Linked DNA regions of Homo sapiens. Changing the gene in region 2 together with the main gene of any one other region gives a genetic interaction. Each region holds a gene or a part of one and is shown on either strand. Other genes may lie near its edges. The genes, in order: CDCA5 and SMC1A.

What was found.
Region 1: of SMC1A (region 2) and CDCA5, a change in one rescues a mutant of the other (synthetic rescue), as found in Homo sapiens cells (one study listed by BioGRID).

What each region holds. Positions count from the first base shown.
Region 1 is NC_000011.10:65,080,775-65,088,893, forward strand, and holds the start of CDCA5 (sororin), read right to left. Parts: upstream 3,267-8,119; 5' UTR 3,205-3,266; coding exon 3,159-3,204; intron 2,950-3,158; coding exon 2,855-2,949; intron 2,777-2,854; coding exon 2,711-2,776; intron 2,626-2,710; coding exon 2,590-2,625; intron 1-2,589. Other genes in the region: ZFPL1 (zinc finger protein-like 1), read left to right, coding at 3,925-4,026, 4,341-4,452, 5,641-5,834, 5,946-6,018, 6,154-6,300, 6,542-6,659, 7,154-7,340; CATSPERH (cation channel sperm-associated auxiliary subunit TMEM262), read right to left, coding at 7,681-7,757, 7,877-7,976, 8,084-8,119. UniProt on the Homo sapiens protein: Regulator of sister chromatid cohesion in mitosis stabilizing cohesin complex association with chromatin. May antagonize the action of WAPL which stimulates cohesin dissociation from chromatin.
Region 2 is NC_000023.11:53,398,389-53,405,654, forward strand, and holds part of SMC1A (structural maintenance of chromosomes protein 1A), read right to left. Parts: coding exon 7,105-7,266; intron 7,004-7,104; coding exon 6,857-7,003; intron 6,762-6,856; coding exon 6,624-6,761; intron 5,506-6,623; coding exon 5,389-5,505; intron 5,285-5,388; coding exon 5,178-5,284; intron 1,343-5,177; coding exon 1,201-1,342; intron 1-1,200. UniProt on the Homo sapiens protein: Involved in chromosome cohesion during cell cycle and in DNA repair. Central component of cohesin complex. The cohesin complex is required for the cohesion of sister chromatids after DNA replication.

The DNA.
Region 1 (8,119 bases), on a different chromosome or scaffold from region 2:
GGGAACACAGCAGGGAATAAAACAGAGAAAACCCCTGCCCCATTCTAAGAGAAAAACAGGTAAGAAAATTCAGTATTATGTTAGCAGTATCAAGCACTACAGGAAAACAGAACAGGAGAGAGTGCTTGGGGCAGGTTAGAATTGCAAAAAGATAAAGGTCAATACATCCCTCACTGAGGTGACATTCAAGCTACAACTTGAAGGAGGTGTGGGAGTGACTCATGGCCAAGTTCTAGGCAGTGGGAACAGAAGGTGCAACAACCCTGAGGCCACAGTGTACTAGTCAGGGTCAAACAACAAGGAGGCCAGTGTGGCTGAAGTGAAGGCAAGAGGAAGAAACTGAAGATGAAGTTCAAGAGATAATGGGTGGCCAGATATGGTGGTTCACACCTATAATCCCAGCACTTTGGGAGGCTGAGGTGGGTGGATCACCTGAGGTCAGGAGTTTGAGACCAGCCTGGCCAACATAGTGAAACCCCATCTCTACTGAAAATACAAAAAAAATTAGCCAGGTGTGGTAGCAGGTGCCTGTAAGCCCAGCTACTTGGGAGGCTGAGGCAGGAGAATCGGTTGAACCTGGGAGGCGGAGGTTGCAGTGAGCCGAGATTGCGCCACTGCACTCCAGCCTGGGTGACAGTGCGAGACTCCATCTCAAAAAAAAAAAACACAGGGAAGCTGAACAAATTGGTGGTCACTGCTGACTACGACTTCCTCATTCTCTATAGCCAAGCAGTCACCCAGGTCCTGGCAACTTTATCCTGCTCGATGTACCATGAATCTCAGTCAATCAACAAGAATGAGTGGCTACTAGGAAAGGCAGAAGTCCCTACCCTCAAGGTGCCTGTGTTCTTAGAGGGGGGAGAGAAAGACATCAAACATGCAAGAAAATACACTATAAGAACTGATAAGGACCAGGCACAGTGGCTCATGCCTGTAATCCCAACACTTTAGGAGGCCAAGGTGGGAGGATCACTTGAGCCCAGGAGTTCAAGACCGGCCTGGGCAACATAGTGAACCCTCATCTCTATAAAAAAAATTAGAGAAAACATCAAAAAATTAGCCAGGCATGGTGGCATGTGACTATAGTCCCAGCTACTTGAGAGGCTGAGGAGGGAAGATCTGCAGTGAGCCGAAATCTCGCCACTGCACTCCAGCCTGGGTGGCAGAACAAGACCCTATCTTTAGAACTGGTAAGGCCTAAGAGAATTACATAGAGAAATGTGACAGCAATAGGGTAAGGGTGGTCAGGGAAGGCCACTGGGGGGCAATTCCCTCTGAACCCAGTACTGTATATCATCCTGGCTTTAGCTCACGCCCTTGGCTTCATGCTTCAGAATTCCTGGACTTCACGTCATTCCACTGGTCTTGGAGCCCCAGGGTAGCCCTTCTCAAAACCATTCTCCCCACAGCCCCCAGAGGGGTCTTTCTTAAAACACTCAAACTTGACTCGGTCACTACCTTACCCAGAACTCTCCAAAGGCTGCCCACAGACCCAAGAATGATGCCCAAGCCATGAGTGTGGCTTTTGTGCCTCATCAGGATCTGCTCTGCCTTAGGGTGCTTCCTCCCCTGCTGAGGTCTGCTGCAGACACTAAACAAATTGCTATTCCCCGAACCTTGATTTTTCTTTAAATTCCCAATCTCTGCAAACATGGCTTCTTTGACCTGGAACAAACCTACTTGTCTTTTTTTTTTTTTTTTTTTTTGAGATGGAGTCTCGCTTTGTCACCCAGGCTGGAGTGCAGGGGCGTGATCTCGGCCCACTGCAACCTCCGCCTCCTGGGTTTAAGCGATTCTCCTGCCTCAGCCTCCTGAGTAGCTGGGACTATAGGCACGTGCCACCATGCCTGGCTAATTTTGTATTTTTAGTAGACACAGGGTTTCACCACGTTGGCCAGGCTGGTCTTAAACTCTTGACCACAAGTGATCTGCCCGCCTCAGCCTCCCAAAATGCTAGGATCACAAGCGTGAGCCACTGCACCCGGCCTCTACTTGTCTTTAAAGACTCAGTTCAAATGTTTCTTCTTCCACGAAACATTCCCTGAGCCACATGGTCTGGGTTAGCTACCATCATAGCATCTAGTATTCCTTATTGCAGTCCCAGTACACAACGTTGCTATCACTTGTCATTGGTCTTTCTCCCCAGTTGACTCTAAGCCCTATCAGCTCTTCAAAGGAGTTCACATTTCTCAGTCAGTATGTCTTCAGATTGTCTATTAATGAAACATCCTTTGATAATAACTTCTGCTAAAACTGTAAAAATGTCATACACATGACTTATCTCAGAACACCCATACATGAAAGCTGAAGGCATAATGGATTAGAAAGGCAGTACGTGGAGTTAAGACATAGCTCAGCTTTTAAAGGAAGTTCCAGGAAAATGGTAGAAATACACAAGGCATAAAAAGTTAAGTGTATTAAGTCTTCAGGGAGTAATCAAGACTGGCAATGCATGCAGGTGCCCACAGGCAAACTGTTTTTGCAGTACTGCAAAACAGCTCCCTGGGCAGATGTGAGGAGCCAATGTGTGCTGTCCAGCTCTAGAGTGACCCAGATTCTACTTAATTAAGTAGATGAAAGTGAACTCACCCTAGGGCTCCTGCGAGGTGATTGGACAGCTGGGACCTGCGGGGGACAATACCAATTGATCACATAGCTGGTCCCCAGTTTTGCCCGCCTAACCACCCACAACACTCTCCTTAGCCTTTACCTCTACAGCATGGGCCACGATCCTCTTTAAGACGATGGGCTTTCTGACTGCAGCCGCACTGGGTGTCTGGAGAAGAGGGATGAACGTGAGCTCAACATTAGGTGAGGGGCCACAAGGGGAGGAAGTGAGAAATCTGGGGCTCACCTTCGGCCAGATTTCAGGGAGGATGCTCGGGAGTTCAGAGCCTGATTTCCGCTGGGACCTCCGCAGAGGCTTAGTAGGAGATGGGGCCCTTGGCCCTGGAAAGAGAAAAAAGTTAAGTGGTAGAGGAGGACTCTAGACCTTAGAGTCCAGAGAACAGGTTCTAGAGACAGCGAGAAGATTCCCAAACAAGCCCTTTTAAGGGCGCCTCCTCCGGCGGCGGCAGCGGGAGGGAAGAGGCCATCTTTCACCGGACTGCGTCCCCCAAACGGCTCGACCTCACGTCTCCCGCGCGCCCTCCGCTCACCGGAGCGCTGAGCGGCTCCTCCGGACCGCGTTCGCCTCCCAGACATAACTTAGGCTCCGTCTCGAGCTCCTCCAGCGCCGCCGCCCCGGGCGCGCGCCAACCGGGAAGGCCACTCGCTGCAAAAAACGTTCGAATTACCCGCCCTGCGGGAAAGGAAGCGGAAGTGACGTAGGGCTAGCGGTCTGCGGCCCTCGGAACCCCGAGTCTTTTCCACCCGTCTTCACCTCTAGCGGCAGCGGAGGCGTGGCCCAGGGGCGCGATGGCGTCATCAGCGCGCGCCGCACCCGGAAGAGACGTGGCAGCGGAGGGATAATCGGGGCGGCCGGGGCTGAAGGGAGAGGCGCAGGAGCCCTGGGGAGAGTGGTCCCTGCCCTTCCGCGCCTCGAGCCATCGCTACCGCCCTTCGGAACCAGTGCAGCGGCCGATCAGTAAACACAGAGACTGGGGTCTGTAGAGAAGGGGCGGGACTTGGAGGGGGTGGGGCTCAGGAGAGGTCTTGGGGGCGGGGCCGGTAGTATCGGGGAGCCTCTGATGGAGGGGCCTGGCCGGGGGCGGGATCCAGAAGGATTGAGGGGTCGCCGGAGGCGGGATTTATGCAGGGGGTGTTTCTCCGCATAAGGAGGGACAGTGGGCAGGAATCTGAGATCGGGGCGAATATGAGAGGTGTCTGGGGGAGTTAAGAGTGGAAACTGGGCTGGTGAGAGCGTAGTGGTGGCCACCAGAACCTGACTTCCTACCAACTCATGCCCCTTTCCCAGGATCGATCATGGGGCTTTGTAAGTGCCCCAAGAGAAAGGTGACCAACCTGTTCTGCTTCGAACATCGGGTCAACGTCTGCGAGCACTGCCTGGTAGCCAATCACGCCAAGGTGGGGCCTTCAGGGGAGCGACTGAGCAGGGCACTGGGTGGGCAAGGCGGTATTGGCTTCCTCCAAATCCATGAGGGGCCCCGCGCTAGAATGTAAGCCCCACAAGGGCAAGGACTTGATTTATTTTGTTCACTGATATATCCCCCGTTCCCAAGAGAGAGTCTGGTGCACAGTATGTGCTCAATAAATATTTATTGATTAAACAAACGAAAGGATGAGTCTCCTCTGTGGCTAGAGAAAAAGAGACAGTCGGACCTTGGGGTGATAGGCCGAGCAGCCCCAGCACCAGTTGTGACATCTCTCTCCCACTCCAGTGCATCGTCCAGTCCTACCTGCAATGGCTCCAAGATAGCGACTACAACCCCAATTGCCGCCTGTGCAACATACCCCTGGCCAGCCGAGAGACGACCCGCCTTGTCTGCTATGGTGAGGCCTTGGCACCTCGGGGGGATCAGGCCAGCCTCAGGGGCCAGCTTGGTGACTGGTTTCCAGGCCCTCCTCAAGCAGCAGGACAGTGAGTCCCCCGAGTCTCAGAGCCCAGATTCTAGTCCTGTTAAAGTTCCTTACCTGCTGTGTAAGTTCAGGCAAGTTATTCTTCCTTTCTAGGCCTCACTGTCTTTCCTAAAAATTAAAGCTCCTAGTTCCTCTTTCCTAAAAATTAAGCCCTGCCAATCTGGAGGTTTCAGCGAGAACCAGTCAAGCTTACGGGTATGCTGGTGGCCGTGACTATTAGCTAGCCAGACCGGCATGTTGCTTTCAGATATTCAGGATCCACCACTGATTCCAAGGCTAAACAGAGAGGAAGTGAGTTTCCCACATTAAAGTTAGCTAAAAGAAGTCAGCAGACATATGTGTCATGACTTTGACCTGAATCTGGGGTAAGAGCCTTAGCTCCAGTTTTTGAAGGAGCTCATGCAAGAGTCAGCTCCATATGTGTTTCTCCTTGTGAGTGCATGTGTGTACTTGCAGGCACTTAATGTACATTGTGTGTTTAAATGAGTGTTAGTGTGTTGATCTGTACTTGGGGTGAATGAATGGGTAAATGTATGTATGTGAACATATGAACACAGGTGTGTTGTGGGAGTGCAAGAGAATGCATGGTTGAGGGTGCCTGTTAGCAAACCTGTGAGTGTATAGATGTGTATGTGTGAGGGCTCCTGTACCCATAGTGTAGATATAGGGAATGCCACTTGTGTTTGATTATGTGCTTATAAGGACATGTACATTTGTGCCCAGGGATGTGTACATGTATATGTGTGCCTGTGTGTGTATCGAGGAACCTTTTCTGAAACTGTTCATTATTAGCCATTAGCCCAAAGAATATGATGAGTGCAGGCCCAGAGAGGACTCATTGAAAGGACTGAAAGGGGAGGTGGCGTTTTCTTCCTACCCAAACTTACCCCTGTGAGCTGGACAGCTTGGTAGCACCTGCCTGGACTTAGATGGTGGTAGCCAAGAAGACTGACATTTTAGGGAACAGGACGGGGAGGAGAAGGCTCTGGCACACACACATGTGTCCATATGTCCTGCAATGGTCTGGGGACTATTGCTAGGCTAGGAGCCCTAAGTGTCTTCTTCCTCATGTCTCTTCTCCCCTGTCTCATGGGCCCTAAGATCTCTTTCACTGGGCCTGCCTCAATGAACGTGCTGCCCAGCTACCCCGAAACACGGCACCTGCCGGCTATCAGTGCCCCAGCTGCAATGGCCCCATCTTCCCCCCAACCAACCTGGCTGGCCCCGTGGCCTCCGCACTGAGAGAGAAGCTGGCCACAGTCAACTGGGCCCGGGCAGGACTGGGCCTCCCTCTGGTGAGAGTCCCTCGTCTGTCTGACCATCTATCTGCCCTGGGCCCCACCTGAGTCAGATGGGTGGGTGGGGACAATACTAGGCAGCCTGGTGACCCAGATTCCTTCCTCCAGATCGATGAGGTGGTGAGCCCAGAGCCCGAGCCCCTCAACACGTCTGACTTCTCTGACTGGTCTAGTTTTAATGGTAAGTGGTGGCTTCCACCGACTGTTTGGGCTTTAGCCTCCCTGCTCTGCTGACAGCTCCCTTGGTCTGCAGTCACATGCTCTACCCCTGAGCTCTATGCACTGCTTCTGCTGACGGCTCTCTTTCCACCCACAGCCAGCAGTACCCCTGGACCAGAGGAGGTAGACAGCGCCTCTGCTGCCCCAGCCTTCTACAGCCAGGCCCCCCGGCCCCCAGCTTCCCCAGGCCGGCCCGAGCAGCACACAGTGATCCACATGGGCAATCCTGAGCCCTTGACTCACGGTGAGCCTGGGAGTTATCCAGGCCGCAGAAGGATAGGAAGAGGGTGGAATGGTTTGTATAGGGGGAGCTTGAGGATCCAGAGACCCACCCGGAGGAACCTTTCCTTAATCCAGGCACAGCCATTACCTCCTCACAATTCTGAGATGTTCTGTCAGACTGAGGAGAGCAGGTGATCCCCCTAGCCCTCCCCAAAGCGGCCAGTTTTCCTGAGTCTATTGATGCTAGTGGCTCCACCCTGTAGCCCCTAGGAAGGTGTATGATACGCGGGATGATGACCGGACACCAGGCCTCCATGGAGACTGTGACGATGACAAGTACCGACGTCGGCCGGCCTTGGGTTGGCTGGCCCGGCTGCTAAGGTACACAGGGTCAGGCAGGGCGGAATGCCAGGAAGGGGTGGAGAGGGAATGGGAGCCAGAGGTCCTGGAAGGGATGGTTTCATGACAAAAGGGGCTTGTTCTGGGGAGTAACAGTACCTGGTGCTGGGGCTGTGCAGAGAGGCCTTGGCTGTGCAGCAGAAGCTGTGTTTTGCTTCTCTCTGGGACTGTCTCTATGCCTCCTACACAGGAGGTTTGAACTCAGGCTCTTTGAGGCCCCTTCCCGATCTGACACCCCCTAATCTTTGTAATTCTCCCCGACGTCTGACACACTGTGGTTTCCAGAATACAGTCGTGCGCCTCAGCTGGTTTGAGCTGCACAATAACGCCCTATGGTGGCAGGTGCAGGAGTGATCATCCCTGAGGCACAGACGAGGAGATGGAGGCTCAGGAATGGGTGGTGACCAGGGCTTCTCTCCAGCCGCGGGGGCCACCAGGGACTGGGGCCTGACCTGATTTTCCCCTCATCCCCCCAGGAGCCGGGCTGGGTCTCGGAAGCGGCCGCTGACCCTGCTCCAGCGGGCGGGGCTGCTGCTACTCTTGGGACTGCTGGGCTTCCTGGCCCTCCTTGCCCTCATGTCTCGCCTAGGCCGGGCCGCAGCTGACAGCGATCCCAACCTGGACCCACTCATGAACCCTCACATCCGCGTGGGCCCCTCCTGAGCCCCCTTGCTTGTGGCTAGGCCAGCCTAGGATGTGGGTTCTGTGGAGGAGAGGCGGGGTAATGGGGAGGCTGAGGGCACCTCTTCACTGCCCCTCTCCCTCAAGCCTAAGACACTAAGACCCCAGACCCAAAGCCAAGTCCACCAGAGTGGCTGCAGGCCAGGCCTGGAGTCCCCGTGGGTCAAGCATTTGTCTTGACTTGCTTTCCTCCCGGGTCTCCAGCCTCCGACCCCTCGCCCCATGAAGGAGCTGGCAGGTGGAAATAAACAACAACTTTATTAAAACACCCGAGGCAGCCTTTTGCTTCCCCCTCCTTAGCCCTGTTCCGACTCCCCAGGCCTCAGTGGTGCTCCTCCCGGTACTCGATGGCCAGAAACTCCAAGGACAGGCGGTTGAAGAACATGGCTCCGTTGAGCACTGGGCGGGGGACAGAGCCCCCCATGAGCCCCAGTACCCTTCCCTGGCTACTCCTTGCCACATCTCAGGGTTCCAAAGCTCCCCGCTCCCTCTTGCACCCTCCCACTCCTGCCACTCACTCAGGATGGTCAGGGCGGAGAAGCAGACGTACTTGTTTTCTGTCATCTCAGCATAGAGTGACCCCATGGCAGCCCAGCAGATGCTGATCACCTGGGAGAACTGTAGGCCCATCCAGTGGGAGAGTGGCCCCCTCGCACAACAGTGGGGTTTCCATCAGCCCCTCGGGTCTCCCACAGCCAGCCCTTGCGTCCCTGCCCTGAGCCTACCATCAGGACGACCGTGTAGTGAAAGCTCATGTGGTC
Region 2 (7,266 bases):
GAAAATTGAGTCATCACACAATACATGGTGGCACAGGCATGCTAAACTCAAAAGAACTGAGCTGTAGCAGTCAGTAGCACAGTCACACTGTGAAGTGACTAGGTTTCAGCAAAACATCATCATTTGTTGCACTGAATTTACATGGTCAATCTAAATTTTGCTCATTTTGTTAGTATTTAATTTTTAACTTTGTCTTAGCATTTGGTTAAGTGTTCTAAGTATATATATTTATATATACTTAAGTAACATCACGGATTTAAGGCAACACTGGCAATCTTAGGGACTATTTTTCCTTTAAAAAGGGTCTGTGTATTACTAAAGTTTGAAGACACTACATAAATAATGTTACAAACGTAGCATGATTTGCTAAATTCCCACTTTCCAAGGGGCACTGAGTAGTTTCCAATTTGGAACTATAAATAATGCTTGTTATAAACATCAAAGTGTTTGCATAAAGCTTTGCCAGCATTTTGGATGATCTCCTCAGGTACTACTGAGTTACAGAGTATAAATGCATTGTGAAGCTTCTTGAAGGATGGTGCCACATTACATAAGAATACTCGTCTCCTGGCCAGGCACGGTGGCTCATGCTTGTAATCCCAGCACTTTGGGAGGCCGAGGCAGGTGGATCATGAGGTCAGGAGTTCGAGACCAGCCTGGCCAATATGGTGAAACCCCGTCTCTACTAAAAATACAAAAATTAGCTGGGCGTGGTGGCAGGCACCTGTAGTCCCAGCTGCTTGGGAGGCTGAGGCAGGAGAATGGCATGAACCCGGGAGGCGGAGGTTGCAGTGAGCTAAGATAGTGCCACTGCACTCCAGCCTGGGCAACAGAGCAAGACTCCATCTCAAAAAAAGAAAAAAAGAATACTGGTCTCCTATACCATGGCTGGTATTGAGCATTGTGTCTTCTGTTTTTACATTTTCCACGATGTGTTACAAAATACATTGTATCTAATTGTTGCTTTAATTTGCATTTCTTTAGTAAGACTAAATTATTTGTATGTGTTTAGGGACTATTTGAAAGTCTTCTTGAACTGTTTGTGACATTTATCCATTTTTCCCGTTTAGGTCTTGGTATTTTTCTTATTGATTTAGATGAGAAATTTCTAAGTTGTGGACATTATCCTTCTGTCTGTCGTATTTCTTCCCATTTTTCCTCCCAGTTATTAGTCTGTCTTTTAATTCTTTCCTTCCTTACCTTTTTGAGCTTTTCTATCTCATTTTCATCTTTTTTCACTGTCTGCTCCCACATGTGTACTTTATCTTGGTCCTCCTTCAGTTGGTTCTTTTCAAAATCCAACTGAATGCCCAAGCGAGTCTTCTGATTCTCAAACTCCAAACTGTGTATAAAGGTGGGGGGAGAATCACTCATAATCTCATCAGCCAGAGATAACCAATGTACAAAATCCAACTATGGGAAGAAAGGGAAACTAGACCCAGGGCTCAGGGACCCAGAGTTACTGATTTTCAGTCACAACTTGCTTCATCCATCCATATGCACATAAAACGGTCCCCTGAAGCTGAAGAACTAAGTTCCTCAGCCTAGCCCTGTGGACATGGCATAAGGCAGGGAAGATTCGGCCAAACCTTATTTATCCCCCTTTAAACAATGAAGACCCCAGCGCCCTCCAAGTTCCTACAAGGAGGCATAAAAGAGTCCATCTGATTCTACCAGCTATGGTAATTCCTATTAGGCTTCTATGTACTTTACATACATTATCTCTAATCCTCTAATCAACAGCTCTGCAAGTAGGCATTATTATCCTAATTTTACAAATGAGGAAAACTTAGGCCAAGAGGTAAAAGACCTTGCCCAAGGCCACACAGCTAGTAAATGGCACATGTGAGACTGAAACCCAGATTTAACACCAAAACCCGGGCTCTTTCTAGTATACCACCACTGCAACATAATGTAGTGGATTAAGAAGACTGGCATCTCAACTCTGCCACTTACTAGTAATGTCATTCAGGCAAGTTGGTTATACTCTCCAGACCTGTTTCCCCATCTGCAAAATGAACATAATAATAGTACCTACCTCAGGGTTATTGGGAGATTTTTAAATGAGTTAATATGTATAAAGTCCTTAGAACCACACCGAGTCCACGATAACTACTCAATCAATTTTAGTTACCATTATCACCAGGTATATTGACTGTACTCAGCTTACTTTTGTCCAAGGGCTTCAACTACAGCATCCCAACTTCTGCCCCAAGGTCCCAGAACCTCTTAAAGGGCAGAACTTGGATAGTACAAAAACATGGAGAAAATACTGGATTCCTGCTATTGTCCTCCTCTCCATCTCTTCAGAAACTCAAGAGTATGCAACCAGCATACACAGGCACTGGCAGGCCAGGCAGGACTAACTTCCAATTGCCCTCTCCAACTCCCAATATGGTGTGACAGATGTTGCCAGATGTCATGCTAGCAGCTTAAACCTATTAGCCACTATAATCCAAATGAAATATAACTAACTCTATAATTTTGAGCTATGCAATTTTATATCCAATCTCCTAAGTATGACTCACAAAGGCCTCTGTGATCCGGCCCCTGCTGACCTCTCCACCACTCCCCACCTTCTTCCTGACCCTGCTTTTATGCTCCAGACATTAAAAACTACTTAGTATCCAGAACAAGGCATGCTCTCTCACACTTCCAAGCATGCTGTTCTCTCTGCTTGGAATTCACTTTTTCTGTCGCTGCCTGGCTGGCTAAATCCTACTCACTCTTCAGGTCTCCAGTCATCACTCCCTGTTTTGTAAAACCTTTCCTGACGGTTCTGAGCAGGTTCCTAGTTTCTATTACACTTTGTTGGGTTCCTCCCTTTTTAGACTTTAGGTGCAGAAGCAAGTTAATCATATCCCACAGTTCATAACACACTTATCACCACTGCCTGGGCAAGACCCTTCCCTTGTCCTCTTTGTTTCAATCCCCAATTTCCATTCCCATTACCTTCCCTACTGTGAACATGCACCACAAAGTGACATACACACATGCATTCCTTAAAAATGCATATCCTTGTAAAATGTCTTAGTTCTAAAATTTACACAAATCTACTGTGTTATAAATTTTATTCTTTTTTCTGGTCAATACCAGGTTTATAAGTTATCCATTACTGCCCACAAATCTAGTTCTTGCTGTGAACTCCCACACAGTATTCCAGTCTATATATTCATTTGACTTATGCTCCCCCAGTAATGGCCATCTACATTGCCACCAATGTCCCACTACTACAAGTTATGCCAAGATGAATGACACTGAATGTGTATCTCTTTGGGACCCTATGGCAAGACTCTCTCAGGGATATATACCCATAGGTTTTATATATGTGTATATATATACATTATATATATACACATATATTTTTTTCACATACTACACAGGACATCTATAGATTTCCACCTAATACTGTCAGACTTTTAAATTTGCATTTCTCTGATTAAGAGGTTAGACCTCAATTCCTATGGTCATTAGCCACTTGAACTTCTCTTTCCATGAAAGCCTATCTATATTATTTGCCACTTTTTTTTTTTTTACTTTTTTCATTGCATTGGGTATCATAAGTACTTAGCCACATTTCCATTGGGTTTCTTGTCATTGTTTTTTATTTTTCCTGTTGTTGATTTGCAGTTCCTTGAAAATTTCTTCAGTATTTTGTATCTACCTTAATTACACCATTGATCACACTGTCCTCAAATTGATGTTTCCCCCAGTACTCTATATGTTTCCTGAGGAAAGAAATACAGTCTGATTCAATTCTATATCCCTTGAGACTGGCTTGAAGTAGGACAGCAATGAATATTTACTGTATGGGCAAAGGGCTAAACTGCTAACTGAAGCCCAGGGTACAAGGGATGACCTCCTTCAGCAAAGACTGTGTTGTGTTCATCTGTCTTACCTCCATCTCCCTTGTCCCCCTTCCAATACCTAGCACAAGACAACCTGGCACAAGGTAGGTACTCAACAAAGGTTTGTTGAATGAATGAATCAACTAAAGTGAGGAAAAATGAGAAGATTATTTTCTTCTGACTATTGTTTCAACCAAGAATTTCATCTCCCGCCTCCCTCCACCTCACGTTGCCCATTATGATAATAACAACAAAAGCTACTATTTCTTGCTCTTAGTAGATGATATGTAAGCTGCTAAATACCTTTTAAAAAGGTTAAAAAAAAAAAAAAGCCAGGCGGGGGTTGGGGCCAGGCGTGGTGGCTCATCCTGTAATCCCAGCACTTTGGGAGGCCAAGGCGGGTGGATCACGAGGTCAGGAGTTCGAGATCAGTCTGGCCAGCATGGTGAAACCCCATCTCTACTAATAAGAAAAATTAGCCGGGCATGGTGGCGTGCACTTATAGTCCCAGCTACTCAGGAGGCTAAGGCAGGAGAATTGCATGAACACGGGAGCCCGGAAGGTGGAGAATGCAGTGAGCCGAGATCATGCCACTGCACTCCAGCCTGGGCGACAGAGCAAGACTCTGTCTCAAAAAAAAAAAAAAAAAGGGCCGGCAATATGGCTCACACCTATAATCCTAGCACTTTGGGAGGCTGAGGCAGGAGGATCACTTGAGCCCAGGAGATCAAGACGAGCCTGGGCAATGTGGCAAAACCCCATCTCTACAATAACAACAACAACAAAAAACAAAAAAAGAAAAATTAGCCGGGCGTGGTGGCAAACATCTGTAGTCCTAGCTACTCAGGAGGCTGAGGTGGGAGGACCACCTGAGCCTGGGAAGGTCAAGATTGACACTGCACTCCAGTCTCGGAAACAGAGTGAGATCCTGTGTCAAAAAAAAAAAAAAAAAAAAAAAAAGGTAAAACAGGTAATCTTAAAAAAAAAAAATTATTTCACCTAATCCTCCCAACAATGCCATGAGATAGGTATCATTATACCATTTTGCAGATATTGCAGCTTACAGAAGTCAAGTCACTGCCAAAGATAACGAGTTGTGGAGCTGGGGTTGTAATCCAGGAATCCAGAAAATCAAGTTTAGAGTTGGCACTCTTAACCACTATAACTATGCCATACTGCCCTCCTGATTTCTGTTCTTTAAGGCCTAGCTACATAAACTCACATAGTTCTAAGAGCTGACCCTTGCCTATGACAGCATCTGGTTTTCCAAGGATGTCAAGCTAGAGGCTCAAGGGCATGCCAATCTCTTCTACCAATCCTCCCACCTACCGCTTCTTGGCGATTTCATTCTGCCGTTTCACCTTTTCTTCCTCAAACTCCCGGATGTTGCGCACACCAATCTCCCGACAAAACTCTTCAAACACCTCATCCTCTACCTGAGAAGAGAAGCCAGGGAGGGCATCGGCCCTTTTAGTCTGTCCTGCTTCCAGTCCCAGTCCTGCCCTGACACACACGCTGGCATGGCCCACACCCTACCAACCTGGTTCATCTTCTCCTTCAAGTCTTTCATTTCCCTCTCTCGGCTCTGAATGATCCTCTTGATATCATTAATGCGAGGCCCAAAGTTGGCTAGCTCACTCTCCAGCTTGGATTTTTCCTACAGGCAATGGGTTGAGAGGACAAAGCAGACCAGGCTCCTTGGAGAAAAAGCTACCTTGACTGCATTGGCCCCACAGTCAGGAAGGGCTAGCTCTCCACAACTGAGAGAACCTGGCTTAGCACTACTGCCCTAGTCAAGCCTCCATGATGTTGCACTGAAGCCATCACATGGCTTCTTCCCTGGCATCCAGTTCAGCCAGCTTCAATCCACAGGGCTGGGGACACAGTAAACATCATTAGGTATAGGTCCCAGTCTTTGATCTACAACCCCTGGGGGCAGAGTTGTTTCAGAATTCAGTTTAGATTTTTTGAGTTTAGAAAAAGATATATAAATACACACACTACATATAAAACCTCTAGGGCGGTCTGGGGAAGTAGTCAGTAAAAAAAACAAAACACATTAATATACCTAGAACAGTCCCCCCCCGCCCCGCCCACTACCACAAGCAGGGACTGAAATGCCCATAGCTCACTTTCAAAAATTCAAATTTGTTGAATGAATAAATTATGCTAACAATAGCACATAACATAAACTGAACACATGGTAGTCTTAAGCACTTTACATGTTAACTCATTCAATAATGACCCTATAAAGTAGGTATCATTTATTTATTTTGAGACAGAGTCTCGCTCTGTCACCCAGGCTGGAGTACAATGGCATGATCTCGGCTCACTGCAACCTCCACCTCCCGGGTTCAAGCAATTCTCCTGCCTCAGCCTCCCAAGTAGCTGGGATTACAGGCGCCTGCCACCACGCCCAGCTAATTTTTTGTATTTGTAGTAGAGACAGGTTTGGCCAGGCTGGTCTCCAACTCCTGACCTCAGGTGATCCACAGGTGATCCACCGTGCCCGGCCGAGTAGGTATCATCTTAACTCGCATTTCACAGATAAAGATGTGAAGGTTGACACTGAAAGGTGAAAATACTTGCCTAATGTCAAACTCAAGGCAGAGCCAAGCTCTGAACCCCTGGCTGTCTGACTCTATGCTATACCTGACTCCCTGCGGCAGGCTGGGAGGAGACGGGGAAGTGAAACAAGTTCCCCACCCCCAGAGAAACCTAGGCCAGGAATGTGTGGATGGCCTTTGGAGAACAGGGCTGAAGGCCAGGCCCCACCTGCAGATTCAGGGCTAGATGTCGTGTCTTGGTCTGTTCTAGGTCACTCTGGGAGTACTTGAGCCGCATCTGCAGTCCATGGGCCTGAGACTGCACCTGACGCAGCTCTGCCTCTTTCCGTTTTGCCTTCATCTGCTCCTGAAGGGAACAAGAAAGAAGGGCTAGGTGGTAAGGTGGTGGCTGACCTAGGCTTAGGACTCCCACTGCTAAAAACAGCACTGCCTGTGGCTTACTTTCAGCTCCTCTGTCAAGCGCTCCTTCTTCTCTTTCAACTTGTCTACTGCTTTCTCATCCCAGCGCCGTGCCTTGGCCTTCAGGTCACTGGCCCCACCAGAGATCACTCCTGACTTCTGGAATAGGGTTCCATCCAGTGCCACTGTCTACACACAGCAGGGGGAAGAGAGAAGAGGGGGAGAAGCTGAACAAATGAATCTCCAGTACTGAGCCTGTCCAGCTCCAGCCTGGGCAAGGGAATCCACACCTTGTGGCGCTGGTGGCCTCCAAAGGCAATGCGGCGGGCATCTTCCACGTTGTCACAGACAAGGGCATTGCCACAAGCATACTGCAGGGCCTTTTTGATATGAGGTGGCTCATAGCGAATCACATCAATCACTAGCTTGGCCCCCTTCAGCTCCCGGAGTTT